Linked DNA regions of Homo sapiens. The protein of the gene in region 3 purifies or fractionates together with the protein of the main gene of each other region. This does not show direct contact. Each region holds a gene or a part of one and is shown on either strand. Other genes may lie near its edges.

Region 1 (4,192 bases), on a different chromosome or scaffold from region 3:
CTCCCATATTTCAATGTATCCAAAGGTTCTTTTCTCCTTTCCCTTCTCCCATCATTTCTTCCCTTCACTCCTCCTCTCATCATTTCTTCTCTTTATGCCATTTCTAAGTAATAATTTACTTCTTCATTGTCTGATACATTTTCTCTCCAAATTCCCTAATGTTCTCCCATCTCCTGTTCTCTTCTGTTTTTCCCTCATCTGTTTACAGATCTGGGTTTCTAACTCTGTGTGTGTGTGTGTGTGTGTGTGTGTGTGTGTGTGCGCGCGCGCGTGTGTTACACATTCTGGTTAACTAAAGAGATTTTAGGTTGCAATGGCAAAACATACTGAACACTTAAATGTGGGCCTCTAATTTCCCTAATATATCCTTTAAACAACACACGCATATATCCTAGTAATGTTACCCCTTATTCACGAGAGTTGAAATGGTTATTCACAAGAATTTACTCAAATAAAAATGAGTTTAAAAAAACTATTAAATATATGAACCCATATAGGACTATCATTTCAATCAGTATTTCCCAATACTTCTTAAAGCAATAGTCCAACAAAGTACTCCACAGAAAAATAATGGTTGCATGGTCAAGTCATAAGGCACAAATCATACTAGGTACTTAAAGAGTGTAAGAAATCCTGAAATGAAGAAACTTGCTTAACCTTATTATCCAGCTGTTCCCAAATTTACTAAGCTTATGAGCTCTTTTTTTCTCCCCCAGCACCTATTAATATCCCACAGAACATGCGCTAAGGAAATGTTAACCCTAACCACTGATTAAAATATACTATGTAAAGCATTATACTTAACCTAGTAGCATAAATCGTTTTTAAAATGGTGCTGCCTTTGAAAAAACCTAAAATGGATTTATAAAGAAAATAATCCAAGTTGCTAGGTGCAAATGGCTCATTTTAAATATTGCATGTATATTTACCTTACTTAGGTTAATTTAAAAAAAAAAAAACCATAAGCACCAATTGGGATTTTGATTTGGGAGGTGGGGTGGGCAAACAGCAAAATTTTCCTTGAAGTATAACATATGGAAGAGAATATTTTATAAATATTAACTTCTAAGACTGTTCTTATTTTTCCATCAATTTTCATGTTTGGTCTTTTATCAAATGGGAGAAAAAAATGGAATTTTATGACTTACAAAATCCAATGAATACACAGGCATGCTATATTGAACTTTCCTGAAGGTATGTTACACAACAATACAAGAATTTTTTAATGAAAATGCATCAATTTTCCCTTTAATGTATACTACGAATTATTTACTTCACAGGTTTTAAAGAGTGTATTTTAAAGTACACACATTTTACCTGAAAGCTCCATAAAGTGGTCTGTACCAACAGACAAATGAACAAGGAGTAAAAAGCAAGAACCACAGGATACTCAATCCAAAATCAACCGCTCTTGCAGAATCAACACAAAACCAAGCCAAGCATCCGAAGATATTTAGAAACAGTGTTACTGCATGGACTGTGGAATCAGAAAACAAAATAGAAAAAGAAAGATTTACATTCAATTTATGAATTCATCCAACAAAAAATTGTAAATAAAAAAATACTTCCTAAGAGCAAATGTATTCTACTCCATGTTTCCATTTATATTTTTCAAAACACTGTTGTATCTTACATATTTGATTTGAAAACAGAGTATACACAGGAAAGCGAGTCTTAATACATGTACTGTTTGGCAAAAATTCTGTTGGCCCTCTCCTCCTCACAGGCAATGATGTAGCTAAACCAGAGGCGCACTACCTTAAGGGCTTCTTCCCGAAAAGGAAACGTGATGTCTCTTGATCTGAAGCCCAAGAAGAAAAGCAGTGTCTGCCAGGAAAAGACCCAGGACTTAGGAGGAAAAACCATATCTTTACAGAATGGGGCTGCAGACTAAACACTGGACTAAAAATACTAATACAGTAGCAATTTCTAGTGACTATATAGTCAATGTATAAGGATTGTTCATTCAACTTCATAGAGCTGTCCATTTGTAAAATCCTGAAAAAAACTTGCGTTTTGGTAGAGGATTAAATTTATTAAGTCCCCTCCTCACTCCCCCACACAACATGATACATTTTAGCTACTGTGGCAGGCTTTTCTTTTGGTTAACACAAATAGATGTTGACAAATTCATCATATGCTGTTAATAATTGCTTTCCCTGACAGACCAAAAACAAAAAATCTGAGTAACATCTAACTATACCATGATCCTAAAGAACTACTTTGACCCATTGTAATTAATAACTGTTTCAAAGGATTTTTTAAAAATTTATTCACAGGCTGAATTTATTATAGTAAGTACATTCTTATATAAGCTAAAATGATGTTTAATGTAAATTATCAAATCAATAAAAATATGCCAACAAATTACTTGAATTAAAATTAACAACTGGGAAAACCTATTGGATCTAGTTTTTTAAATCTCAAACTTTAAGATTTCTTTACAAATCAAATAAGTTAATAATTAATGAAACAGGATACACACACACATTCTGGGATGCCTAAATTTGCTCTTACCTAACCCACCAGATAAGTAAACAAGCTCTAGAGTTTTGTTTTTTGTTTTTTTTTAAAAAGAGCTCCAGATGAAGTCACTTAGGTTGTAGTCATCTAATATTAAGCCAATCACTCAACCTCTGTAAGCTTCAATTTTTCAGCCATAGAAATGCAGGAGCTTTTCCCACTTTAAAATCCCATTCAATTCTATCACAAAAGAGACACTCTCACTCATTACTCTAGTCCCATTAGGATTTTTAACTCTCAGGAATGCTTGCTCATAATAAATTTACTCAAAACCCTTGGCCTCAAAATAAGGGTGGTTGTGTTAAGATCTTAAAAACAGAATTGAAGATTGTGAAATAGAAAATTATTACTCTGCAGCATTAAATAGCATCCAGCTGCCTTAAAAAGTTTTAGACCTTAAGAACATTCTAACTTAAATTTCAATTTTCAAATTAGGTTATTTCCTAATCCACTGAAAGAAAGATAAAATATATGTATAATTACACTTTAAAGTTCATGAAAATTATTCCAAGTATAGATGAAAATACAAAAATTAGCCAGGCGTGATGGCATGTGCCTGTAGTCCCAGCTACTCAGGAGGCTGAGGCACGAGAATCACTTGAACCCGGGAAGCGGAGGTTGCAGTGAACCAAGATCGTGCCATTGCACTCCAGCCTAGGCAACAAAGCAAGACTCTGTCTCAAAATAAAATAAAATGCTAGGACAATTTCTGCCCATTTAAAAAAATAAACATATATAAAATATAAATGCATATATTATATTGATTAAATAAGAGTTGGTTAGCATGTACATATATGGAATCAGACATTTAATATTAAAAATATATACTACTGACACTGAGGATTCAGCAAAAGATATTAGATCAAGAATATCTCGAAAAATACTAATGAAGAGTTAAAAATAGACTATCCATTAGGAAACACTTCTCACATTCCAAAACAACTTGACATACATGAAGAATGCTCCTAAAAGATTTTAAGGAAAATTATCTCATCCATTAAGGGAAGGGTGGTAGTCTCATTAATCATAAAGTAAAAACAAGTAAATTTCCTCCATCAAGAATGTACCCTACAAATTATCCATTAACCCAGATGTTGTGCATGTGAGAACCCTCAATAGCTACCTCCCCTTCTGACAGGGTATCAAAATGAGGCTGAGACTACTGTTTGGAATAAAAATGAAACAGAGAGTAAGTGGGAGGTCTGTGCACACAGAGTAAAACTGTTAACGGCTTGACATTTTGTTTCAGTATTCCATGAGTTATTATACTCAAAGTGATGTAAGCATCAGAGCCCCAAACGTATATTCTAATGTTCCGTTCAACAAAATGTCCTGTATTAATTAAGCACTTTCAATAATAAAAGTATCGCAATTGAAAACAAAAAGTAAACTGTACTCAAAGCTATAAAAAGAACACTTAGTTTATGTAATAATTTTATGCCCTTTTAAAAATAGCTAAAACGCCTACATTTAACAGAATTCTTTTAAATGGCCTTCCTCTGCATAAAATTAGTATGCACTATTTTTTCCAAGCAAATCATGTCTAGATAACATCTTTCAAGGAAAAAGAATCTTATAAAATTTTACCCACATGACAGAGAAGTTGTCTTTTCCTCAAAAGAATGCCAGTTCTCAACATACAAGTTTTTCTCAGCCAAGGACTTACATT
Region 2 (3,713 bases), on a different chromosome or scaffold from region 3:
AGGAGCCCCATCAGCCCGCCTCAGCCTCCATTCATTCCTCTCTTCCCCAGAATGCTTGTCACTTTTGTTAGCATCTCACAGAGATTTTGATCTTGGAGCATTTTGGACTCCTTTTTAACTGGGGTAGAGTTTAGAGGCTGGGCAGAGATGCTGGGGATCTGTGTTATTTACAAAGGGAACTAATGTGGAACCTTGGTATCAAGATATGCCCAGGGCCTGAGTAGGGCCTGTCCCAGGACTCACAGGCAGACACATGGTCACAGAATGCCAGTAGCCCAGAAGAAAACAGTAAAGAAACAAAGAAAACAAAATAGGTCACCATTTGAAGCCCTCTCCTAAGCCTAAGGGGTGAAGGCCATGTTTTCAGGCTCAGCCCCGCATCTCTCCCCTAACCCCTTTTCTTTAAAGGGACAGGGTCTCCCTCTATTACCCAGACTAGAGCACAGTGGCATGATCACAGCTCACTACAGCCTCACCCTCCTGGGCTCAAGGGATCCTCCTGCCTCAGCCTCCCAAGTAGCTCAGACTATAGGTGTGTGCCACCACACCCAGCTAATATTTTTTCTAGCAATGGTGTCTTGCTCTATTGCCCAGGCTGGTCTCAGACACTTGGACTTAAGTTATCCTCCCACCTCTGAAAACGCTAGGATTATAGGTGTGAACCATATGCACCCAGCCTCCATCTCTTGTTATATGCATTCTTGTGGCTGGTGGTCGGGGGAGGGGTGGGGGAGGGACAAGGAGCAGAACCGTGGTAAAAGGAGGCAAGGGACGAGGCAAAGAGGCAGAGCCAGAAAGTTCCTCATTTTATACATAAGGCATTGGGGCTGGAGGAAGAGATTTTTTGAGCAGAGCAAGAAGACTGGAGCAGAAGGGAGGAAGGACAAGAGGCTGTGATGTGATCTCTAGTTTTGTTTAACCGTGTTCCTTGTCTTCCATATTCCAGATGTTTTGAGGAACACTCAAAACACCTGGTCCTGTTGGGGCCATCAATCCTAGCACAAAATAGGCCAGGTGCGGTGGCTCACGCCTGTAATCCCAGCACTTTGGGAGGCTGAGGCAGACGGATCACATGAGGTCAGGAGTTCAAGACCAGCCTGGCCAACATGGAGAAACCCTGTCTCTGCTAAAAACACAAAATTAGCCGGGCGTGGTGGTGTGCACCTGTAACCCCAGCTACTCAGGAGGCAGAGGCAGGAGAATCGCTGGAACCCGGGAGGCAGAGGCTGCAGCGAGCCAAGATCGCACCACTGCACTCCAGCCTGGGCAACAGAGCGAGTCTCCATCTCAAAAAAAAAAAAAAAAAAAAAAATTCCTAGCACAAGACCTAAGCCAGTCTGTCTGAATATGTGATGCTATTGGACCTGGAAAACAGTGAGCACTGGGCATGTCACCCGAGCAGAGCAGCGTGTCTTCACTGGCTGACGTATCATGGTAGACGAAAGACAGTCTTTTAGCTCTAGGGCTGCAAAGCTGGAAAGAGTAGACTCTAGGGCTGCCACTGGCCATCTTTCTACTTTGTGAAAAGATCTTGCCTGCAGACTGAGGCCAAAAAAAGATACACAGGGCTAAGGCGTGGGCACAGAGCCCTGGTATGTATGTGTACATACATACATACATACATATATATATATATATATATATATATATTTTTTTTTTTTTTTTTTTTTTTTGAGATGGAGTCTTGCTCTGTCACCCAGGCTAGAGTGCAGTGGCACGATCTTGGCTCACTGCAACCTCTGCCTCCAGGGTTCAAGCGATTCCCTTGCCTCAGCCTCCTGAGTAGCTGGGACTACAGACGTGCACCACCACGCCCGGCTAATTTTTTGTATCTCAGTAGAGACAGGGTTTCACCATGTTGGCCAGGATGGACTCGATCTCTTGACCCTGTGATCCACCCTCCTCGGCCTCCCGAAGTGCTGGGATTGAGCCCTGATATTTTTGAGACTCTGGATCTAAGCATGGTTGAGGCTAGAACTCCAATTTCTTAGTCTTTCCAGTTATATAAGCAAATACATTCTTTTTGCTTAAGCTACTTTTTTTCCCTTTTTTTTTGCTTAAGCTACTTTGATAGAGTTTTAGTCACTTGCCACTTATGAGAGTTATGATTAATATGGGCTATAGAGGAGGGAGATTAGATTTGTTCTAGATGATCCCAGAATTAAGACTAAGGTCTAAAGATGGAAGTCACAGCAAGGGAGACTGCAGTGTGAATCAAGACCTTGATAATGACAGGAGCTGTCCAGAAAGAATGGGAATGTTAGGAGGGAGTGTCTTCTCTGTTGCTGGATGTAGTAGAGCAGGGGTCTGCAATCTTTTACTTAGAGGGCCAGATTGTAAATATTTTAGTTTCTGCAGGCCATATGGTCCCTGTCGCAACTACTCAACTCTGCCATTGTAGTGTGAAAGCAGCCATGGACAGATATGTTAATGAATGACCATGGCTGTGTTCCAATAAAAATTTATAGAAACAGGCCTGCTGGCCCACGCGGGCTGCAGTTTGCTGACCCCTGAGCTAGAGAATCATCTGTTGAGACTGTTAGAGAAGAGGGGCACAGTCACCAGACTGGAGGTAGGGGTACAGCACTACACTAAATGATCCTTCCAGTCTTTTCCAACTTGACTGTTTTTGGGAAACGGCATTCCCAGCTTCGATCAACTGACCTACAACTCTATTTTGCAAATACGCCTGACTGCCACAGAGGACTGCTTGCTTCTGGGCTCTGGAGACCCAAAGTACAGCAGGTCAGAGTAAGTCTTGAGTATTAGTTTTGGAGGTGAGGGGCCCAACAGGGCTCCTCCAAATTCCTCTCAATGGCTCATCTGGTTTGTGTATCATGAATGAATCTAGTAAAACTGTCGTGGGGACATCTGTATTCTTGCCCACGTCTCTCTCTCGGGACAATGAGCTCTGTGAGTTGCCCTAGTCAGGTAAGCCTGGCTCCCTCTTATTATTGGGCCACACTTTACCTATGTGGGGTCACAGAGTTAGGAGGGCTCCGAGGTGCCTGTGAAAAACTTTCCCATCCTCTCCTTACTCTGCAGGATTGAACAGTACTTGCGTGAAGAAGAGAACACCTGCAGAGACAGGATACCTGCAGCCCTAAATTTGGGTTCTACTATTTAGACTATTTCAGCATTTTGTGCTTTTATCTTTATTAACTCCTTTCTACTTTTCTTCTTTCATGTTACTCTTATCTTTTCCTTTTTCTCAAGGTGTTATTAGTCCCTCTTATTTCCTGTGAAGAGCACTGCAGGTGACATATTGCTTTCAAGTCCTGCTTTGGCTATGGCTATACCTCGTAAGTTTTACAAGCATTATTCACATTGTCACGTATCCTGATGGCCTTTGTCTCCCAAACATACAGAATACAGATTCTTTCTTTCCTAAAAAGATCCATCTTCTAGAGCAGGAACAGTTCTAGGTGGCTTTGGTCCTCCCCATTCTGGGTGGAAAAGGAAGATTCAGGCACTTGGGTTTTTCTCCCAGCATCCTCCTCCTGACCTTCCTACCCTATGAGGACTAAGAGGACCTCCTCAAGGAGGGCAGTACCTTGTTAACGAAATAAAAGATGGCATAAACCAGGACGTAGAATGCAGAGCCCCCGGAGACTAGGAAATTTCTCCACCACCAGCGGTAATCCTGAGGAGGAAACAGAGGAAGGTCAGTGTTGTCCTGGGGCAGAACCCCTTCCTACCAATTTCACAGTTGC
Region 3 (4,192 bases):
GTGAGTTTCATGATGAGGGTTGCCCAGGCTCTACAAGTCTACCCAGGCTCTCTGGGATGATAACCTAAATTTCAAGTAGTAATTTGAGAGCTGAAGAACGGGGATAGAGAAAAGAGAGTAATTTTCAATGAGGACATTAGATGCCACATTTAAACAATTCAGTTAACTCTCAGTAGAGAATGAAAGACTTTACTCATAATGGTTCTTTATTATCAGCCAGCCTACAAAGCTTATGGAGCTCAGTCCGACTGAGGCCACCTACAAAGCTGGAATGTTAATAGGCTTATTTCCAAACATGTCCCAGGAAAACTAAGACTACAGTGTGGCTGGAATTAACTTTGTTCCTCACAGCTTATAACCTAATAGAAACAAAAAAAACACTTGAATATTTAAAAAAAAAAAAGGGTGGGTGTCTAGGGAAAGGAATTCATCTTCCTGGCTAGACAGAACAGATGGATAAATTATTTTAATGCCATACCTCTCTCTTCCAAGAGACAGCTTCATAACACACTTTTACTATTTATTCCATCACCACCTCAAACTGTCCTCTTGTGATCTCTTCGTCTGTATTATTCATTACTACTTCACTTCAGCAAATTGTCATTTGAAAAATAAATAACAGATATCCCTTCTAGCACAGAAGAGGAAATTAACTTCTTACCCTTAAATACTGTGGGCTTCATGACTGGGTGCGGTGGCTCACGCCTGTAATCCCAGCACTTTGGGAGGCTGAGGCTGGTGGACTGCTTGAGGTCAGGAGTTCGAGACCAGCCTGGCCCACATGATGAAACCCCGTCTCTACTAAAATACAAAAATTAGCTGGGCGTGGTGGCGAGCGCCCATAATCCCAGCTACTAGGGAGAGGCTGGGGCAGGAGAACTGCTTGAACTCTGGAGGCGGAGGTTGCAGTGAATCGAGATCGCACCACTGTTCTCCAGCCTCAGCAATAGAGCAAGACTCTGTCTCAAAAATAATAATAATAATAATAATAATTTGGGCTTCAATTCAGAAACTAGAAGTAGATACTTAATCATTTATTAGAATCATTTCATCTACTCATTTAGCAACAATTTTCTGAGTGCTTTATTTATATGCCAAACACTCAAAAGATGAAGACACAGCCCTTGCAATCCAAGGCATCTCTGACATGAACAATATAATGCTGTATCAGTCTGACTTTGGAGGTCACGCACTCCAGGAAAAAATAAATGTGTCATCCCTAATATAAATAAACCATAGCTTGAATGAATGAATGAATGAATGAATAAAGCAATAAACCAACTCAGGATAAAACATGAATCCAAATAAATACAAGATCTACCAAGAGGGAGTTTGCTGTTTTTTTCACCACGGGTCCAGCCCCCATAGTAGCAATTACAAGATATTTAAGGCTGAGCTTACCGGTTCCTCCACGGGAGGCTCCTCCATATTTAGAGGGATTTTTGACTCAATGTCCTCCCAGCCAGGAAGGTGGTTAGAAGCTGGGGTGTCAGTAACAATGCCACCATTTTGTACCTTGATGCCATTCACTCTCTGGCAGGTAGAAGGAATGTGGTGAAAGAAGAGGCTCTTCTGTGGCATAGGTAAAAACCAGGCCACAGCAAAAGCCACTGAAACACAGGTAAGAGAGATGACATTCAGGCTGAACAGCGACCAGCCTGCCACTGAGACAAGGATTTGCCCTAGGACAGAGCCCACTGTAAAGCCCACCAAAGTGGCACTTCGACAGTAACTTGTGACTTTCTGGTACATGCCCAGGTCCACCACACTGTAGATATAAGAGTAATAGGCAATTTCAGTGGCTGTGGCGATGCCATAAAAAAATTCTAGAAATTGAATGGCCAGCAGTCCCTGGGCATAGAGCAGCATAAACCATGTAACAATAAGGCTGAGCCCCTGCAGTAGAACAACAGGTTTATAACGGAGGTAGTCTGTGGCAAGGAACACAGGAAACAGTAGCACCAGGTAAGAGTAAGTCCATACTGGATAAATTTCATTGAAGACCTGGTAGAAAGAGAAAAAAAAAAAACAAAAAACATTAGTGATGAAAGGACCTGGAATACTCATAAAGAATTTATTCATAAAAAACAACCTACAAATACCTCAAAGATCTCAACCTTGACAACAGCAGTTCAGATAACTTTGAAAATGTCTTTTCTCTCTTTTTTGTTTGAGATGGAGTCTTGTTCTGCGCCCAGGCTGGAGTGCAGTGGTACGATCTTGGCTCACTGCAACCTCTGCCTCCCAGGTTCAAGTGATTCTCCTGCCTCAGCCTCCCGAATAGCTGAGATTACAGGGACCCACCATCACGCCTGGCTAATTTTTGTATTTTTAGTAGAGGTGGGGTTTCACCATGTTGGCCAGGCTGGTCTCAAACTCCTGACCTCAAATGAGGAGCCTCCCAAAGCGCTAGGATTACAAGGGTGAGCCACCTCGCCCAGCCTGAAATATCCTTTCCTATCCCCAATACCATCATCTTTTTCCTAATAAATTCTTCCCATTAATCAAGGCCTAGTTCAAAGACTTCCTTATTCAGAAAGACTTTGCGGAAGCCAAAAGTACTTGTATTACAACATTCAAACCCTTTTTTTTTTTTTGGTTTTGTTTTTTGTTTTTTTGAGACAGGGTCTCCCTCTGTCACCTAGGCTGGAATGCAGTGGCAGAATCATGGTTCACTGCAACCTCCGCCTCAGGTGAGGCTCAGGTGATCCTTCCACCTCAGCCTCCCCAGTAGCTGGGACTACAGGCCTGTACTACCACAACCAGCTAATTTTTTTTTTTTTTTTTTTTTTTTTTTTTGGTAGAGATAGGGTTTCACCACGTTACCCAGGCTGGTCTCAAACTCCTGGGCTCAAAGCAATCCACCAGCCTCAGCCTCCCAAACTGCTGGGATTACAGACATGTGAGCCATCTGGCCTAGCCTCAAACTCTCCTAATACTGATCTATATGCATCAGTTTCCCCAATTAATTCATAATACTGGCTCTTCACCATGGCTGCATCTCCTAAGAAGCTTTAAAAAAATGTGTTAGCCAAGCGTTGTGGCACATGCCTATGGCTGCTACTCAGGAGGCTGAGGTGGGAGAATTGCTTGAGCCCAGGAGTTTGGGGCTGCAGTGACTTATGATCACACCACTACACTCCAGTCTGTATGACAGAGCAAGACTCTGTCTCTTTAAAAAAAAAAAATGCCCAGCCACAGATATTTTCTAAAAACTTCCCAATAGAGTTTTAAATGAGCCAGAGTTGAGAACAACTGCCTTATAGGCTTTTTAAGGATAGACCCCTACATTCACCTGTATAACCTGTCTAAAAGCCAGCATACTGTTTGGAAGATACTATTCAATAAATGCTTTGAAAACGGAATCACTGTCAATTCTTACTTCTAGACACAAGATAGGGAGCCTTTATCCTACTGTTTCATTAAGCTTCTCTGACTTTAAGTTTTGTTTCTTTTGGGGCAGAGGAACAAATAAAGATGGTCAATGTGTCCTACAGTCTTGACAGAATTAAGTCTCTCTAGATGGCAGGAATATAGGCAACTTTTATGTCCTTCTTTTTGCTTGTTTTTAAATAGAAAAAAGAAGTTTTTGCTGTTTTCTTTCTAATGCATATTTTAAAATTGGGATATAGTAGAAATGATCTTTAAAATAAACTTTAAACCAGAAAGACCCCAACAGGAATTTCAGTTCCATCACTTGCTGTGTGATTGTAGACAACATTCTTTTAGTTCCCCTTAGCCTTAATCTCCATTATCAGTAAAGGGCGGTTGTTTGTTGCAAAAAGTAAATGAGACACAACATGTAAATTACTTACTCCACCTGATTTATTCACAAAGTCTGAAGACTAGAGGACAAGCTGACAAGGACATCTGGGGCAGTATGAATTAACTAAATTAATTGAGCTATCATTCCCATTCTTCCAACAACAATCACTGTAGGAGATTTTTCCTTCCTTTTGTCAGTGGCCTCAACTTTTAAGTGCTTTTTGAAAGGTAGTTTTGGTAAAAGGCTGAATACTTTGTGATGAAGCAACCTAATCCCAGACTTTTACATTCTGAGACCAATAGTAACTTTCTTTTTATCTTTCCTGTACATCTCAGTTCACTCAAGTCTAATATGAGCTAAGGTTCTAAGGTTTTAGGCAAACAATAAAAAATTGTTGCAAAATCTCTTGCCAGTGCAGAGCATAGC
Region 4 (4,159 bases), on a different chromosome or scaffold from region 3:
ATAAATAAATAAAATTTTAAATAGGAAAAGCAAAATGCGTGCAGAAGAATACAAGACATCAGGGAGTACAGTTAGTAAAAAAATGCATAAGGTTCACCTGTTTGCCAAAAGTGGGCCCCAAATTTGGTTCTGAGTACCCAACAGCCAAAGTAAAGAGAGAAGTGCCATTGTTGACAAACAGTTTTTTAAAAGAAGTACTATTCACATTCTGTACTGTCTCAAAGATGTCATCAAATCCACTGGATTCCAAAAGTCTGGCTGGCTGAACAGGCTGGCTGCAGAACAATCAGCTGGTGACATTGTTAAAAAACCACATCCTTGGGCTCCACCCCAGAAATTCTGGGTACTTGGTTCTGGGGTAGTGCCCAGGAACCTGTATTTTAAAAGCCCCTTCTCCACTCCCACCCTGAGATTCCGATTGGTTTGGAACACTCTGATAGTCCATTTCTCTTCTATAGGAGAGGAAGTATACAGGAGATGAAGATCCCAGACCCCTCAGGGTCACACAGCTTGTGAGACAGAGGACAGGAAGCCTGGTCTCCAGAATCTTGCCAAGCCTCATGCCACCTAGGTAATTAGAAGCAGCAAACCCCCACTAGCTGAGGGCCTGAGGCACTTTGTCTGAAAGCCAATATGACCAAAATTGGCCGTGGTAGATCTTGCTTCTATTTAAGATCTCCATTTCTCTCAGGTATCTCCTATGAATAGCAGCTGCTCAACCACAGATTTGCTCTGTTTGACCTAGAAGCCCTGAATCGTCTTTCCCTCTAGGATCTAAGGGAGGTTTAAGAGAAGAGATCCTTGCCTTAGGCTTAAGGAGGGTGGTTTTCTTCCAGTATGGAGAAAGTAGCAAACACTGATTTTATAGGATGTTAGCACTTTACCACTCTGATAAAGGTGGTCCAAGGCCCATACTTCAAGAAACACTGCTCTAGTCCCAGCCCCTTATCTGGACGAGTAGCCCGTTCAGACTAAGTAGCTCGCTGCAGGTCATATAATTGTCAAAGGCAAGGAGAAACTTTAGATATCGTCTAATTCAGTAGACTGCAAAACTCAGGATCCAGCGGAATCCCTTTTAGGGACTAACTACTTGCATCACCTGGAAAATGTTAAAAGATCCTGATCCCTGAGTCCTACCCCAGAGATGATTTAGTTGATGTGTGGTGTAGCCTTAGCTTAGGGATTAAAATCTCCACAGGTGATGTTTTGTTGTTTTGTTTGTTTTTGTTTTTTTGCTTTTTTTCTTGAGATGGAGCCTCACTCTGTCACCCAGGCTGGAGTGAAGTGTCATCCTCTCAGCTTACTGCAACCTCCGCCTCCCAGGTTCAAGCCATTCTCCTGCCTCAGCCTCCCAAGTAGTTGAATTACAGACGCACACCACCATGTCAGGCTAATTTTTGTATTTTTAGTAGAGATGGGGTTTCACCATGTTGGCCAGGCTGGTCTTGAACTCCCAACCTCAAGTGATCCACCCGCCTCAACCTCCCAAAGTGCTGGGATTACAGGTGTGAGCCACTCAGCCCGGCCTCCAAGTGATTTTTAATAGGTTTGCAGGCGATTCTTAATAGGTTTGCAGTTTGAGAATGACTGGGTTTGCAGTTTGAAAATGACTGACTAGGAACTGGATTAAAATGCATATTCCCAGATTCCACTCCCAAGATTCTGATTCAGTAGGTCTGGAGTAGGCCCCAAATCTAGATTCTCAACAAGCCCCCTGACCCTAACAATCTGATGAAGGTGGCCCAAAGCCCACACTTTGAGAAACACTGCTCTATTCCTAGCCAGGTGGTCCATTGAGGGTAAGTAGCTTGCTGCAGGTTGTGCAATTGTCAAAAGGCAGGAAGGAACCACACTGATGCCAGCAATTCCTAAGGCAGAACTTAATCAAAACAGGGGCCAAAAACCAGACAGGAAGTCCCTTGCTCTGCTCCTTTCTTCTGTCCCCACTCAAAACTCATGGACACACACCCTCATTCCAACCCTGCTCTTCCTGCTAGCATTTACTGAGTACTTACTATGGGCCAATTTGTATACTTTACACAGACCATCTCTTCTAATCCCAGTGCCTAGTGCATACAGCCATGCAATGGACAATCTTTATTTAGTCCAAAAGTATTTTTATGGGTTTTCATGTTGAAGCCTGAGCAGATCTGAAATCAGGAATCATTTCTTTAGATCATAAGGCTTGAAGTCACACTTTGTGAGCCTGTGTTCTCAGAAGCAGGCACATGCTCACGTGGCCAATAACCCAGGGCAGACCCCCAGCGTGACAGCTCTGAAGACTCAAACCTACCCCACTAGCATCTTACCGATAAGAACTGAGAAGAAGAACTGCACGATGGGAATGTTCAGAATTGGGGCCGAGAGGTTCAAGAACCAGTTTGGTGTCATGGGGAAAAGTCTCAAAAACAATAAGAAAAAAAACAAGCTGTTTCTGTTCTCCTCCACCTGTAGCCAAAGAGAAGAAAGCTGTTAAGAAGCAGAAAGGGTCTCCAGGTGTTGAAAACCTGCTGGTGCCAGGCACTGTTCTAGACACTTTACATAATCTGTTCCCAATTCTTCCAACAACCCTCCAGGGAAAGACTGTTTTCCTCATTTTAAAATAGACATGCTGAGGATCAGAGAAGTCAAGAACTTGCCCAAAGTCACAGAGCTGGTAATGATGGAGCTGGGATTTGATCCCAGGTCTATGTCTCCTGAAGACATCAAAAGAACCCCTAGGACCTCCTGAAACAGCGTGGAAGAGTACTGTGGGAAATCCCTGCCACTCGCTTCTCTCAAGGCCATGCACGTAGCGACTGTCTGGGGTCCCAGCTCTCAGATGTGACCCCTCCCCTTACCTTTCTCTGCAGCAGGGCCACTTTATCAGGAAAGTAGGACACCACCAACTGTTTGCCAAAAATACTGGAGAGCAGGTAGCAGCATGTGGCACCCACCGAGGTCAACACACAGCACAGCAGAAGCCCCAGCCATGGCCCAAACAAGGCACCAGCTAAAACATTCTGCAAATAAAACAAACCCTCAGGCATGTGAACATCTGGCAGCTACCAGGCACGTCATCTTGGAGCCTGAGAGTCATAGGTTCCCTCCTCCTTCACTGCTTTTTTCCAGCTAAAACCCAATTGCGTTATTTATTTATTTTTAAGAAACAGGATCTCGCTCTGTCACCCAGGCTGGAGTACAGTGACATGATCATAGCTCACTGCATCCTCGAACTCCTGGACTCAAGCGATCCTCCTGCCTCAGCCTCCCAAGCAGCTAGGACTGTAGGCACACACCACCACATTCACCCACTTTTTAAAATTTTTTGTGGAGATGGGGTCTCACTGTGTTGCCCAGGCTGGTTTCAAACTCCCGGACTCAAGTGATCCTCCCACCTCAGCCTCCCAAAGTGCTAGGATTACAGGCGTGAGCCACTGCCCCAGGTCCCAATTGCCATTTAAAGAGGTGAATGAAAAATTATGAAAAGGCTGGGAACTACACCTGCCGTCAGTCTCTTCACCTTGAAAATGAGGATAAGGATAAAAGCCTCAGGGGGCAGGAGAGAATGAAATGGGATCTGTGGCTGTGGTAGATTCTGCAATGACTGGGGCTCCAAGAAAGTAGAAATGAAACTCACGAGTTATTTTTACTATTTCAAAAGATGAACACAAACCATGAATTTTCCCTTGGTAAGACCACACAAGCTATGTAAGATGTCTTGTTTCTTTGCTTTTTGCTGGAATTACATCTATGCAGTATGTTAATACCGGGGTTCCATGTTGACCAGAGCTCTAGCAGACATTTGAAGATGTCTTGGTTTAAGAAAAAGGGAAAAGTGAACCAATACTTCCTAAATGCATTTTGGTTGGTAGACATCATCCTGACAAAACATGGGATCCAAGAGAGAAAGTAAAAGGAAGCCTTGGAAGTGGGAAGCTGGGGAGCCGCTAAGCACTGTGTTAAGTGCTTGACTACATGTCCTGTGTAATCCTCACTACATCCCTGAGTCATGCCATCCTTGCCCCATTCTACAGGTGAGAGATTAAGTATCCTCCCCAAGAGCACAGCAGGCAGAGTCAGGGTTCACCCTCAGGTCTGGATGTGGAGCCCCCACCAAGCAGCAGCTGGCTCTCTGCCCTGAAGAGGGATCAGTTCAAGACAGAAGACAGACACAGGG
Region 5 (4,192 bases), on a different chromosome or scaffold from region 3:
AACAGATATTTATTGAGTCTATTAGGTAGCAAGCACTGTTTTAGGTTCTGGGGGATATACAACAATGAATAAAACAGACAAAAATCTTTGTCTTCATGGAGTTCACATTCAAAAAATGTCGTAAAACCTCAACTAACACAACTGTTTATGTAAAATAAATACTCATATTTTATGTATACGAACGCTTTACCCAGAACTTTAGCTTAGCTTTTTTTTTTTTTTGAGATTGAGTCTTGCTGTCGCCCAGGCTGGAGTGCTGTGGCACGATCTCGGCTCACTGCAACCTCCACCTCCCAGATCGCTGGGACTACAGGCGCGTGCCACCACGCCTGGCTAATTTTTTGTATTTTTAGGGGAGACAGGGTTTCACCGGGTTAGCCAGGATAGTCCCAATCTCCTGACCTCGTGATCCGCCCATCTCGGCCTCCCAAAGTGCTGGGATTACAGGCGTGAGCCACTGCGCCCGGTCTAGGTTAGCTTTTTTTAAAAAGTTATGCTATTTAAATTTCTACTATCAATTCAAACTAATTTTGAATTGGTTAGATGTGTTTCTTGAAGTTTTATGTTAATAATAATAAACTTCTTGTTTCAAATGGAAATATTTTAAAAAGAAACTGTTCTTAAATAAGGCTCCATGGGTCCCATAAGAACTTCAGTGAACTACAAACCCCTCTAATTATATGTAAAAGTGTGTGTGTGTGTGATTTTTCTAGGGATACAGAGCTTTTATCAAATTCTCATAGTTCAAGGACCTCAAGAAGAAAATTTCTCGTTAAAGGGATGATTATACATAGGCATATGTAAACAGGGTATTTTTTTTTTTTTTTGGTCAATTGTTTTCATTGAAAACACAATATATGTACCAAGTTCAAAATTCAAACAGTGTGAAAGAGGGCACTATGAAGAGCCACCCTACCATCAACCTGTCATTAACTCCCCTCCACAGAGAATACTAATAAATCTTTCCAGAAATATTCTATGCATAAATAGCATTACTGCAAATATAAACATATAGCTATGTTTTGGTAGATATTAAGTAAATTTTAGAAAGCAATATAAGCATTGTTCAGGTGAACAAAACCACACTGGAACGGGGTTTCACTGATGAAACAGAACCCTCAAAGTCTCAAAAATACTTTTGTTATTTAATGGTATAGACCAGGGTATAGTCCAAAAATATTTTCTTAAATACCCATATAGTAAATATCTTAGGCTTGTGGGGTATATGGTTTGTGTCATACTTATTCAGCTCAGCCACTCTAGCTTAAAAGCAGCCATAGATCATATAAAACACATGGGCATACTTACTTCCAATAAAACTTTTTTGGGGAAAAGAAAAAAAAAGCAGCTATAGTTCACTGACCCCCAGAACAATCTATAAATGTAGTTTAAACTGACACCCTACTGTAAATTGGTGATACATCATTATGAAATACTTTATTTCTTAATAAATAAATAATATACTCTTGTTTTTGACTCACTTTCTGCCATTTCAGAATCCAGCATTTTAAAACAGCTGTTGTCTAAATACACATGGATCCCATAGGTTTTACTCTATTTTTAAATAAGTGGGCATACCACAGCAACCTTCTTTCCCACCACCAAATCATTCAAAAAGGTATCTTTTACCTGTAGGCCAAGAAAGCTACTGGCCTCTGATGCCCATGTTCATCAGTCATAGAACCGACACTTGGAGGTTCAACAATAACATCATAAATTATTCCTATAAGAAAGACAACAGAACAGATTAGATTGTATTACTAATTTTTGAAAACAGGATTATAGTTTTCATTGTCTCTTAAGGTTCATTTACTTTTTTTGAGACAGAGTCTCACTCTGTCGCCCAGGTTGAGAGTGCAGTGGCGCCACTTGGCTTACTGCCAAACTCCGCCACCCAAGTTGAAGCAATTCTCCTGCCTCAGCCTCCCAAGTAGCTGGGACTACAGGCGCCCACCACCATGCCCAGCTAATTTTTGTATTTTTAGTAGAGACGGGATTTCACCATATTGGTCAGGCTGGTCTCGAACTCCTGACCTCAGGTGATCCACCTGCCTCAGTCTCCCAAAGTGCTGGGATTACAGGTGTGAGCCACTGCACCCGGCCAAGTTTCATTTACTTTTAAATAGGAATGCTTTGATTGTATTATTATAACCAAATGTGGCCCAACTCATCTAAAGTTCTGATAAATCATTCAGACATTCAACTCAATGTTTTAGAATTACTTTGAAAACTGTATGATATCTAAATGAAGTACAAATTTCATAAAGGAAATTCATCCAATAAGAGTTGCTAATACTCAGGAATGACTTTAGTATAAAGGGGATTTAAAACTAAAGGCTCTACTTCGGTTCACAAAAATTGTCTCAGATATGCTTAGATTTGTTTCTATAAATTGAAAAATAACTAGAGAAATTGCTTAAATGTAAAACAAGGAGACATTTTAAAACCACGCCATCAGGCAGAATGGCAATACTAGAGATTCATAATCATTAACATTAATGTCCACCATTATGTCATAATGTCATCGTGATCATTAACATTAATGTTCATCAGCACTAATAGTTTTCTCAATCTCCCACTGTCAACATCTACTCTACCTTCTCCACTGTTCTCAAACATCTTCATCTCCAGCTTTTCTTAAGCATAACAAGCCTATCTCCCTTATCCTAGCCTGACAAAACAATCCTATAGGAATTCCCTTGTCTTTTCCCCACCAAATCTACAAATACCTGGTACCTGCATCCATCCTCACCTCCTTCTTTCCAGCTACAAAGAGGAAGATTCCCACCTCCTATAATGTGGGATCCCTTTTGCAATTACCAGGAGTCCATTCCCACTTGGACTCTCAGGGACTTTATTCCTTTGGATATCTCTCCTCTCTCCTGTATTTTCAAGCTCTCCTTCCCTACATCAACCCTCCTTGACTTCAGATCCTCTTAGCTAACATCCTATTTCTATCTTTGCTTTCTGAAAGGGAGTCAGACTTTCTTCTGGAAGACTTAGGCAAACTTGCCATCTCCCCTTTCTTACTTACCCTTCATTCTTCAACTCAATCCAATCTGGCTTCTGCAACCATTGATACTGCTCTTTCTAAGGTCACCAATGATCTCCATGTTGTCAAATTCAATAGACACTTTTCAGTTCTCATCTTAGGGGACTTCTCAGAAGCACTCAATCCAGTTTACTAAACCAATTTCTTGAAAAACACCTCTTCTTATGGCTTTTGTGATACTCCTCTTCATGTTTTCTTGCTACCTCTCTATTGGGCCTCTTCTTTTATAAAAGAACTAAATGTTGGAGGCCCTCAGGGATTGGTCCACTGTCCTCTTCTACTTTTCTCCAAAATGAACTCCCAGGGCTTTCAATTTCATGTGCTAAAGACTCTCAATGTGATGTGCCAAGGCCTCTCAAATAATGCCAGTACCATTAGAATTACATGTAAGCTCCTCAAGAACAGAGACTTTGGACTTTGCCTATACTCTTCAATGTCTCATGGGAGTTCCAGAAATGTCTGTTAGTTGACCAACTTCAACACAGGCCTCTTTTCTCAGGTCTAGACTCCCATCTGCACATGTGACATATCCAACTAATTTTACCCCAAAACAACCTCTGGTGCACCATTTTCCACCAAAAACTTTGTTTTCTCAATCTCAGGAAATGATACTTCCATCTATTCAGGAGCTCAAACCAGAAACCTGTAAGATTCCTTCCCACTTCATTCTTCCCCTACACCCAGTGAATTCAAGACCTACTGAATCTACTTCCAACATATCTTTCATTATATTATCCTAATCTCCACTACCATAAACCTTGTATAGTCTAAGTCAACTACAAAGGCCACCTAATTGGTCTTTTGGTCTCACATTTGCCCTACGTTTCCCTCTGCCTAGCATATCCTTTCCCCGAACTCTTCAGATTTTGGCTTACATATCATTTCCTCAGGAATCATATCGAATCCAATCCAGATGATGCTTCCAACTCCCTTTAGTTTCTCAAAAACCTCTTGTTCTTTTCTTTCACTGTATTTATAACCATTGTTTGTTTGTTTTTATTTTTTGAGAGAGGGTCGGGTCTTGCTCTGTCACCCTGGCTGGAGTGCAGTGGTGCCATCACAGCTTACTGCAGCCTCAGCTTCCCAGGCTCAGGCGATCCTCCCACTTCAAACTCCTGCACCATAGTCCCAGCTACTTGG
Region 6 (4,192 bases), on a different chromosome or scaffold from region 3:
ATTACATCATCTGGTCTTAAGTAACTTCCAGATTTCCACATGATTTGGGGGGCTGTGATGGGAAGTTTCTGCACATTTTGAAACAATGGGAAGTCTTTTCACCCTAAAAGAAAATTCAGGAAAATTTCAGGAAAGGCAAGAATATGAAATGCAAGTCCATGTAATTCTGTTACAATATTTAGTAAAATCACAGTGTGCTCAGGCATTGCTAGCTCTGTGGCTTTGGGAGGGTTAGTTAACCTCTCTGTGCCTCAGTTTCAAATTAGATTAGAGAAAATAATTGGCAACCCACAGGGCTGGGGGCAAGCTGAAATGAGGTGTTATACAAAGCAGACAGCTTCTAGTAAGTGCTGCGTAACACATGTTGATTACAAAGTACATAAATGATCACCTTATAAGGTGTAATATGATAAGTGACCATTTGGGAAGAATATGATTGGAAAGTGACCTTCTTTCTCCCTATATTTACTATCTCAGGGCGTCAAAGACACCCTCCATACAACAAGTTACCAAACCCTCCTGGCTTTCAGACCTGTGCCTCTTCTGGGCCTCCCCTCCCAGAGCTGCAGGATGCTCAGCCTCTCTCTGCTTCCTGCCACGCCAGCCCACCTCATTCCTCTGTGGTCTAGGAAAACTCCAGCCTCCTGCCCTGTCCCACCTCACCCACTGGCCCACTCCTCTGGTCTCTGGCACTCCGTGAGAAGCGTGCACACTGGGACCAATACTCCCCACTTCCAGACCTAACGTGGGGGCTGTTCTTCTCTAGGAAGTATTTTAGGAAGCCCAGACTGGGCAGGGGTGGTGAGGTGGTCCCCCTGGCGTGCCCGCGCATCCCTGCCCTGCAAGTCTTATCCACTGCGTGGGAACCCCTCGCTGAGGCTTCCGTCTTGCCCTCTGGGCAGCAGGCTCCTCAAAGGCACTTGCAGGGTCGGCTCCCTCTTTGTATTCCTGCGGGCTGAATGCACGGGCTCCCTAAGAAACGCTGAAAGGGGATTCTGGAGTTGGGTGGGGAGTTGGAATAACTGACCCCACTTCTGTTGACCTTTGAGAGCCTGAAAGCGAGAAGGGAGAAGCGAGATGGGAAGATAAAAGGGAGGGACACAGCAGTTATGGAACCCCTAGGGTCACCCAGGACTAGTTATGGGACCCCTAGAGTCCCCCAGGGCTGGGGAGCTGAAGCCTAACTTCAGGCAGGGCAGGGTGCTGGTCCTGGGAAGGAAGTAAAGGTGGCCCCTCCTGTAAGTGAGAAGCACCAGGGACGGAAAGGGAAAGAAAGGCTTGAAATACCAGCAACTGTGGGGATGGATGCTAGGAGGCAAATTAATACTAGTGAGACCTGGTTGGTGGACTAGTACCCACTGCTGGACTGGGTGGTGGATTAGTACCCACTGCTGGACTGGGTGCTGGATTAGTACCCACCGCTGGACTGGGTGCTGATTAGTACCCACCGCTGGACTGGGTGCTGGATTAGTACCCACCGCTGGACTGGGTGCTGATTAGTACCCACCGCTGGACTGGGTGCTGGATTAGTACCCACCGCTGGACTGGGTGCTGATTAGTACCCACCGCTGGACTGGGTGCTGGATTAGTACCCACCGCTGGACTGGGTGCTGATTAGTACCCACCGCTGGACTGGGTGCTGACTAGTACCCACCGCTGGACTGGGTGCTGGATTAGTACCCACCGCTGGACTGGGTGCTGACTAGTACCCACCGCTGGACTGGGTGCTGGATTAGTACCCACCGCTGGACTGGGTGCTGATTAGTACCCACTGCTGGACTGGGTGCTGGATTAGTACCCACTGCTGGACTGCAGGGGCGCAGCACTCACTGTGAAGGTCAAGGAAACAGTAATGAAATCCCCAGGTGGGAGCAGGTTTGTGAGTGCCTCTCTCAATTTGTTCTTGAGATATGTTAATCTGTTCACTCCAGAGAGGTTTGGAAAAGGAGGCTCCCTTAGCTGGTGGGTGGGGAGGGGAACGAGGAGGGCCTGTCTGCACAGATCTGGGTGTGGAAGGGGTCCTATCAGGCCACCGAGCCTGGCCCATTTCCTCACTGCACCGGGCTGCCTTGGTGCCAGCATGACCCCCACGCAGACTTATCAGGGCAGAAAGCACTAAATATTTGAATACTTTACGGCCACGTGTCTACTTTTAAGTTGGTTTACTATTATTTTTCAATTCCCATGTAAAGTATTTCTTCATTTAAATTAATGAATTGCCACTTTGGTTAGGACCCTATTAGTCCTCAGAAATGGGTTTGCTTTGATCGGACCAACCGGATTCCTGAGTGTACCTGACAGAGCCGGGAATTCCCCCTCAAGCAGTGGTTCTCAGCTGTGGGCAAGTTTGTCCCTCTAGGGGATTTTTGGCTGTCACAAGTAGGAGTGGGGTGACTACTCCTGGCATGTAACAGTTAGAGGCCAGGAATGTGGCTGAGCATCCGATTCTGCACAGGTTGGCCTCTTCCACAATAAAGGATTAATGGGCCCAAAATCTCAACATCGAGATTGAGAAACACCTCGCCCTCAAGGAATGTCACCCTTGAGGCCCTGGCCAGGAGGCCAGCGATGAGGCAACCCTGATGACCTGACTTCTTGTGCCCATCTCTTCTCTAGGCCACAACACATATTCAGTGCTGGGTACTCTGCTCTATGCTACAAACGATGCGATCATACCTCCATGCCATGAATGAGCACCCAGTGCAGTTATGAAGAGAGGACTGTAATCATTGTCATGGCATGTAATTATGCATCTAGAAAGAGTGACTGTTTTATGAAGGGTGAATGGGGTGATGGGAGAGCGTCAGGAAAGCAGAGGCTGGAGGCAGATGCTAGAAATGGACTCACAGGCATAGAAATGGTTCCTATGCAGGCTACCCACACAAAAGGCCGAAGAATCTGCTCACCATCCGCCTTGCAACCTGCCCTTCCCCCAGCAGAAAAGAGACAAGAAAAGAAATGAGCCTGATGACTTACTCCTGGGACGCAGGACACAGTCTGAGATGATTGCATTGATTGTCTGCTGATGGCTGCAGTATCCTGGGAAGAAGATGTGCTTGCATAGACAGATAGTTCTTTAAAATTTCATCCGCCTCGGTTAACCTCTACCCACAGAAGACTGACAGCTCACGAGGAGCCCATGGAGATGGGCAAGAGACCAAATTTCACTCCAGGATCAATTCAAGTCTCCCATTCTCATTTCAGAGTTGATCTAAGATAAGCACTGGCAGGGTCTTTGCAGATAATAATCTGCCTTTAAACCCCGTGGTGGATTTGTGGAAAGTCCACTGAAGAACAGAAAGCCTCTGACTCCATCCACCCACCGCCTTGGGAACTCTGAGAGCAGCCACCACAGGTGTCCTTGAGAGCAGCTGCTCAGTCAAGTTCAATCCTGGGTTACACATTGGTTTTGAGAAGAGTTCATCTTTAATTTAATGTATGTACTGCATTGTCACTCAGATGGTTTTAATCACAAGGCCCTTTCCCTTCTCCCACCATCTCTGGCTAAACCATAATAAAAACAACACTCCCTGAAAACTATAGTAGCTTGTCTTATAAAGTACTGCTGTTAGTTTTTCTCCAAATTCTAAAATACTACCCTTTCTTGCAGTAATTTTGCTGTTCTTAACAACTGGGATGAAAGGCATGCAGAGGTCTACACGGTAGAGATTTGTTCATTATTTGAAAAATATTAGCTGGGGAACGGGCGCAGTGGCTCACATCTGTAATCCTAGCACTTTGGGAGGCCACACTGGGCAGATTGCTTGAAGTCAGGAGTTCGAGACCAGCCTGGCCAACATGGGGAAACCCTGTCTCTACTAAAAATACACACGCAAAAAAATTAGCCAGGTGTGGTGGCGCACCCCTATAGTCCCAGCTACTCAGGAGGCTGAGGCAGGAGAATCGCTTGAACCCAGGAGGCAGAGGTTGCAGTGAGCCAAGACTGCGCCATTGCACTCCAGCCTGGGCAACAAGAACAAAACTCTGTCTCAAAAAAAAAAAGAAAAGAAAAATATTAGCTGGGCATGTTAGTACACACCTGTAGTCCCAGCTACTTGGGAAGCTGAAGCGGGAGGATTGCTTGAGCCCAGGAATTCAAGGCCAGCTTGAGCAACAAAGTGAGACTGGCCTCTTAAAAGAAAGACCAGTCTCACTTTTAACATTTTAAACAAAACTAAAAAATAAATTTACC
Region 7 (4,192 bases), on a different chromosome or scaffold from region 3:
ATGGCAGTGTCGTGCCATCTGGGCCGCAGGCTCCGGAAGAGTGGAGAGCTATAGAAGCCCACAACTGAGGACACCATTAGGTAACTGCCACTGCATTAAGGAAGAACTGGCTGGCTCCAAGAATTAATAACTCATCTCAAAGGGAACAGAGCTCTCTCCCAGCCCACTTCTTTTTTTTTTTTTGAGACAGGGTCTCACTTTGTCACCCAGGCTGGAGTGCAGTGGTGCGATTTCAGCTCACTGCAACCTTGACCTTCTGGGCTTAAGCGATCTTCCCACGTCAGCCTCCCACGTAGCTGGGAATGCAAGCACGCACCACCACGTCTGGCTAATTTTTTGTACTTTTTGTAGAGGCCGGGTTTCACCATGTTGCTCAGGCTGGTCTTGAAATCCTAAACTCAAGCAATCTACCCGCCTCAGCCTCCCAAAGTGCTAGGATTACAGGTGTGAGCCACTGCACCTGGCCTCTTTTTATTTTCTTCTGATCAGATTCTACTGAACCACCAGCCCTCCTTTCAAATTAAGTCTTTTCCTTCTTTCTGAACCTGAGGTTGATGAAAACTTGCCCCACTTCCCATCAGCGTTGCTCAGAGTCCCAAAGGAGACAAAGTCCAAGAAGTGCTCGGTCTAGAGTCCCAGGAGACAGGTTTGCTGAACAGAGGCAATGATGGGTTTCCAGAAGGATACAAGATGAGTACAACCTGAATGACGGCACCAAAGGAGCCCAGCTTGGAGAAGGAGACCTGGCCTAAGGAGGTACCCTGAGGAGTGGGGCAGTATCACTGTGAGCATTCCCCACCATCAGCACTACCCGGCACCCAGCCTTCCCACTGTCCTCAGCTTCTGCCTCCTCTCCCCAGCTGTTCTTAGGCCCTCCCCAAAGGATATGGTGGGAGGGCAGCCTGGTACCTGCATGCCTCGGGGCATGGCAGCCTCATCGATGAGCAGCTCCAGGATGTGGATGGCCACAATGAGCACAGACAGGCCCTGTGTGAGGCAAGGTCAGACTCCCATTCCACCCCAGACCACAGCTGGACCCAGAGCTAAAGGAATGGGCAGACTCTGGTCCAACATTTTCAGTTTCCAAGACTAGCTCTGCTTCCAATGAGCTATATGGGACCTCATCAAGGCTGCTATTAGCAACAGAGTGCCTTTGAGGATATTATAAGATACATCTCCTCTAGATGGAAGGATTGCAAAAAGGCTGAATAGGAAAAGGCATCTCTCTTCCTTCAACTGATGAGATCTATAACTGAGTCCATAGGGGAATCGACTGAATTTCAATGTTTATTATTTTAATGCCAGGGCAAACCTGCACAACTCCTCACTGGCCCTGTGTCTTTGGGCAAGTCACTCAACTCTGTCTCTTCGTCTACAAAATGGGGATTGATGTGCTCAACATTTGTGCTCACCACAGGCAGGACATAAAAGTAGGCACTCAGTGAGAAGCAACCACTATTACTGATGATAACCAGGTCCCTGCATTGCCTCCCCTCTCCCTGAGAAGGCCTCAAGTACTGAGGGTCCACTCCTCACCTCTAGGGCTGGTATACCTACCGTCAGCACCAGCAAGCACAGCATAGCCAGGGGGTAGCCCAGGTTCCGTTGCCAGGCTGAAGCCTTCCGCCTCTTCTCTGTGCAGGGATGGGAGGCTGTCAGCAAGCACCTGGAACCAGGGGCTACTCTCCTTGGGGAAACCCAGGTATCCCAAGCCCTACGAAGCCACATACCCAGCAGGACCCTCTGTGTCTGCAGAGCCAGGACCTGTCTGTGTAGCAGCTCCATGTCTAAAGGCAGCCAGCAGGAAGTAGGATCTGAGGGCAGAGAAGATGGTGTTGCTCTCAAGTCCTGCAGTTTCTGCCCAGGCCAAGCCTACCACCCCAGCAGGGAAGAACTGCAACTTACTACAGATCCTGCGGGTCAGGGCTGCCTCCTCAAAGGCTGAGCAGTACAGCTGCTCCTCCAGGTCTTCCAGCAGCTAGGGGCAGGGGAAAGGAAGAGACTAACTGTCAGAGGCTCCCTGACCCAAAGGCCCCAGGAGAACCCTGTTCTTCCCAGGGCTCCGTAGTCCCAGGCTTCCCCCAGACCCTCATTCACCACCCTGTGGCCCGCAGCTTTGCTCAGTCCCTCCCAATTGCCCTGTATTCTGCCCTGCATGTCTAGTGACCAGCTCTGCATGATAGGGGTACAGAATACAGGAACCAACAAAGGCTGTAGCTCTCTGCAAGTTGTGTACTACACAACCATAGGGTTGTTTCATTGTTTGGTTCCAGCTCTGCAGGAAGCTCACCCTGCAGGATCAAAGAGCAAGGAATACCACATACCCGGGGCTTGACTAGCAGCTTCCCAGTGACGGAGAACATGCGGGCGAGACCCAGTGGAGTACACACTGTAGGGACAAGAGCCAGTCACTTGCCAGACCCTGCTCTCCACCCCTTCCCTAACATGCCCCCCATTCCCTTTCCTTCTAGCCTGGTTACTCTGGTCCAAGGACCCTGCCCATTCCCTCCCAGACCCTGTACACTCACCCAGGAGCAGCAGAACCCCAAGGAAGGAGATGCATGAGTAGAGGTAGGGGAGATAGTACTCCCAAAAGTCTAAGGATAAAAAAAAGAGGCATGTCAGCTCATCTCTCCTTACTTACTGTCCCCAGGCTGACAGGCCTCAGAGTCTAGACAAGGGCACAGTCCCCACAGGGGTTAGGCAATTAATACAAATGAAGAAAGCTGGCCAGCATTAGCAGAATAGGGAGTGGCAGGGCCTATAGTAAACTGGAGATCCTAACCCCTAACTAAAGGGTACAACTGCTATTTGGCCCCCATCACCAGGGACTAATGTAGCCAGATCTTCTCCTTGTCAAACAAAGTTAGATATCTGGATATTAATGTGAAACCTCCCAATTTAAAATGTTAGCAACTGAATAATATATATTTTTAAAACCATTGCATGGGCCCAATGAAACATTTCTGCAGATTGCATTTGGCCAGATGTCTATCAGTTTGAAACTTCAGTCTAAGGGAGAAGGTGCCAACATTTTCCACTTTAGAAGGTTACAGTCATTCCAGGCAGGGGGACATGGGCCAACTGAAAAGCCATGCAGCCTGGAGGAAGCTGGGCCGCTCACCATAGAGTGACTCTCTGTTGGCCTTGTTCTTGTCCACAATGGCTGATGCCACCCACACCATACCTAGCACCAGCAGAGTGAGGAGCATCAACATCACCACTGTCTCATAGACCCGGCCCAGGACACCCTACGGGAGGAGGCAACCAGTGAAGAAGGTTAACATCAGGGCAGTGTGGGAACATTGGAGATGGCAGGCAGCCTGCAGGAACCAGAAAGGTTTGGATTCAGGAGGTAAGAGAGAGGGTTTTCCTCTTATTCTGCTAAGTTGCTCTGTCTTCCCACTCCCCAGTCTAAGGTCACCCCACATACCAGGTGTTCTTCATTTGCATCTCCTTTCCCCAGACCTATTCCTTGTCATTGTGTGCTCTGGGAGGCTGACCTCCGAGGTCTGCATCCCACAAGCTCTTTGCCCTCTGGTTTCGCATCCAACAGGAGAATGGAAGGTAGAAAAAAGGTGAGGGTATGTTTCCTGTGAGTCCTCCCACGTCTGCCACCATGGTTTTGGCAGTGATTATGACACTAAGACAACAGCTCCTCTCTGGGCAGCTTCACATCCCTGGCTTCAGCTATTAGTGGGTTCTAGAAACCATTTCCTCCCTTTGTCCCTACAGGCCTAAGGGTGGTAATGACTTCCTACTGTCACTAGAGCCTCAAACTTCCGTTAACTAAACCTCTGCAAATAGCCTCTTTATTAAAATCTCTTCAGCTGAACCATGTGTGTGGAATTCCGTTTCCTGCCTGGATACATATCCCCTACTTACCTTTCTGGAGCCAGCAAAGCCCTCAGACTCAGTGAAGAAATATGCAAAGGGCATGAGGAAGATGAGGGACAGGTTGGAGAAGAGAAAAACAAGGTTCCAGAGGCCTAGAGCAAAAAAGGAAGAGCAGAAGTGGTCAGTAAGGGGAGGGGCAACCCACAGGAGACTGACCATTTGCAGGAGAAGCAGAGTGGGAAGGTGCGACATATGACTGCTTGGCGCACGGCTGCCTGAGTCCACCCAACTCTATCTGCTCTCTGCTCCCTATCCCTACCCCAAGCAGCTTCCAGGAGCCACACACCATGGATGA

The links.
Region 1: the proteins of SLC19A2 (region 3) and SCAMP1 purify together in Homo sapiens (affinity purification with mass spectrometry; one large-scale study listed by BioGRID and IntAct). This does not show direct contact.
Region 2: the proteins of SLC19A2 (region 3) and TM9SF4 purify together in Homo sapiens (affinity purification with mass spectrometry; one large-scale study listed by BioGRID and IntAct). This does not show direct contact.
Region 4: the proteins of SLC19A2 (region 3) and TMEM41A purify together in Homo sapiens (affinity purification with mass spectrometry; one large-scale study listed by BioGRID and IntAct). This does not show direct contact.
Region 5: the proteins of SLC19A2 (region 3) and OSTC purify together in Homo sapiens (affinity purification with mass spectrometry; one large-scale study listed by BioGRID and IntAct). This does not show direct contact.
Region 6: the proteins of SLC19A2 (region 3) and AGPAT4 purify together in Homo sapiens (affinity purification with mass spectrometry; one large-scale study listed by BioGRID and IntAct). This does not show direct contact.
Region 7: the proteins of SLC19A2 (region 3) and LMBR1L purify together in Homo sapiens (affinity purification with mass spectrometry; 2 studies listed by BioGRID and IntAct, with this or other methods). This does not show direct contact.

What each region holds. Positions count from the first base shown.
Region 1 is NC_000005.10:78,419,086-78,423,277, reverse strand, and holds part of SCAMP1 (secretory carrier-associated membrane protein 1), read right to left. Parts: intron 1,478-4,192; coding exon 1,318-1,477; intron 1-1,317. UniProt on the Homo sapiens protein: Functions in post-Golgi recycling pathways. Acts as a recycling carrier to the cell surface.
Region 2 is NC_000020.11:32,161,206-32,164,918, reverse strand, and holds part of TM9SF4 (transmembrane 9 superfamily member 4 isoform 1 precursor), read right to left. Parts: intron 3,644-3,713; coding exon 3,554-3,643; intron 1-3,553. UniProt on the Homo sapiens protein: Associates with proteins harboring glycine-rich transmembrane domains and ensures their efficient localization to the cell surface.
Region 3 is NC_000001.11:169,475,754-169,479,945, forward strand, and holds part of SLC19A2 (thiamine transporter 1), read right to left. Parts: intron 2,005-4,192; coding exon 1,402-2,004; intron 1-1,401. UniProt on the Homo sapiens protein: High-affinity transporter for the intake of thiamine. Mediates H(+)-dependent pyridoxine transport.
Region 4 is NC_000003.12:185,492,314-185,496,472, forward strand, and holds part of TMEM41A (transmembrane protein 41A precursor), read right to left. Parts: intron 3,003-4,159; coding exon 2,841-3,002; intron 2,449-2,840; coding exon 2,310-2,448; intron 1-2,309.
Region 5 is NC_000004.12:108,653,095-108,657,286, reverse strand, and holds part of OSTC (oligosaccharyltransferase complex subunit OSTC), read right to left. Parts: intron 1,724-4,192; coding exon 1,630-1,723; intron 1-1,629. UniProt on the Homo sapiens protein: Subunit of STT3A-containing oligosaccharyl transferase (OST-A) complex that catalyzes the initial transfer of a defined glycan (Glc(3)Man(9)GlcNAc(2) in eukaryotes) from the lipid carrier dolichol-pyrophosphate to an asparagine residue within an Asn-X-Ser/Thr consensus motif in nascent polypeptide chains, the first step in protein N-glycosylation.
Region 6 is NC_000006.12:161,263,732-161,267,923, forward strand, and holds part of AGPAT4 (1-acyl-sn-glycerol-3-phosphate acyltransferase delta), read right to left. Parts: intron 1-4,192. UniProt on the Homo sapiens protein: Converts 1-acyl-sn-glycerol-3-phosphate (lysophosphatidic acid or LPA) into 1,2-diacyl-sn-glycerol-3-phosphate (phosphatidic acid or PA) by incorporating an acyl moiety at the sn-2 position of the glycerol backbone.
Region 7 is NC_000012.12:49,100,563-49,104,754, forward strand, and holds part of LMBR1L (protein LMBR1L), read right to left. Parts: coding exon 4,184-4,192; intron 3,990-4,183; coding exon 3,886-3,989; exon of another isoform or gene 3,252-3,885; coding exon 3,125-3,251; intron 2,598-3,124; coding exon 2,529-2,597; intron 2,390-2,528; coding exon 2,325-2,389; intron 1,979-2,324; coding exon 1,906-1,978; intron 1,815-1,905; coding exon 1,731-1,814; intron 1,635-1,730; coding exon 1,558-1,634; intron 988-1,557; coding exon 910-987; exon of another isoform or gene 889-909; intron 762-888; coding exon 688-761; coding exon of another isoform or gene 607-687; exon of another isoform or gene 448-606; intron 85-447; coding exon 1-84. UniProt on the Homo sapiens protein: Plays an essential role in lymphocyte development by negatively regulating the canonical Wnt signaling pathway.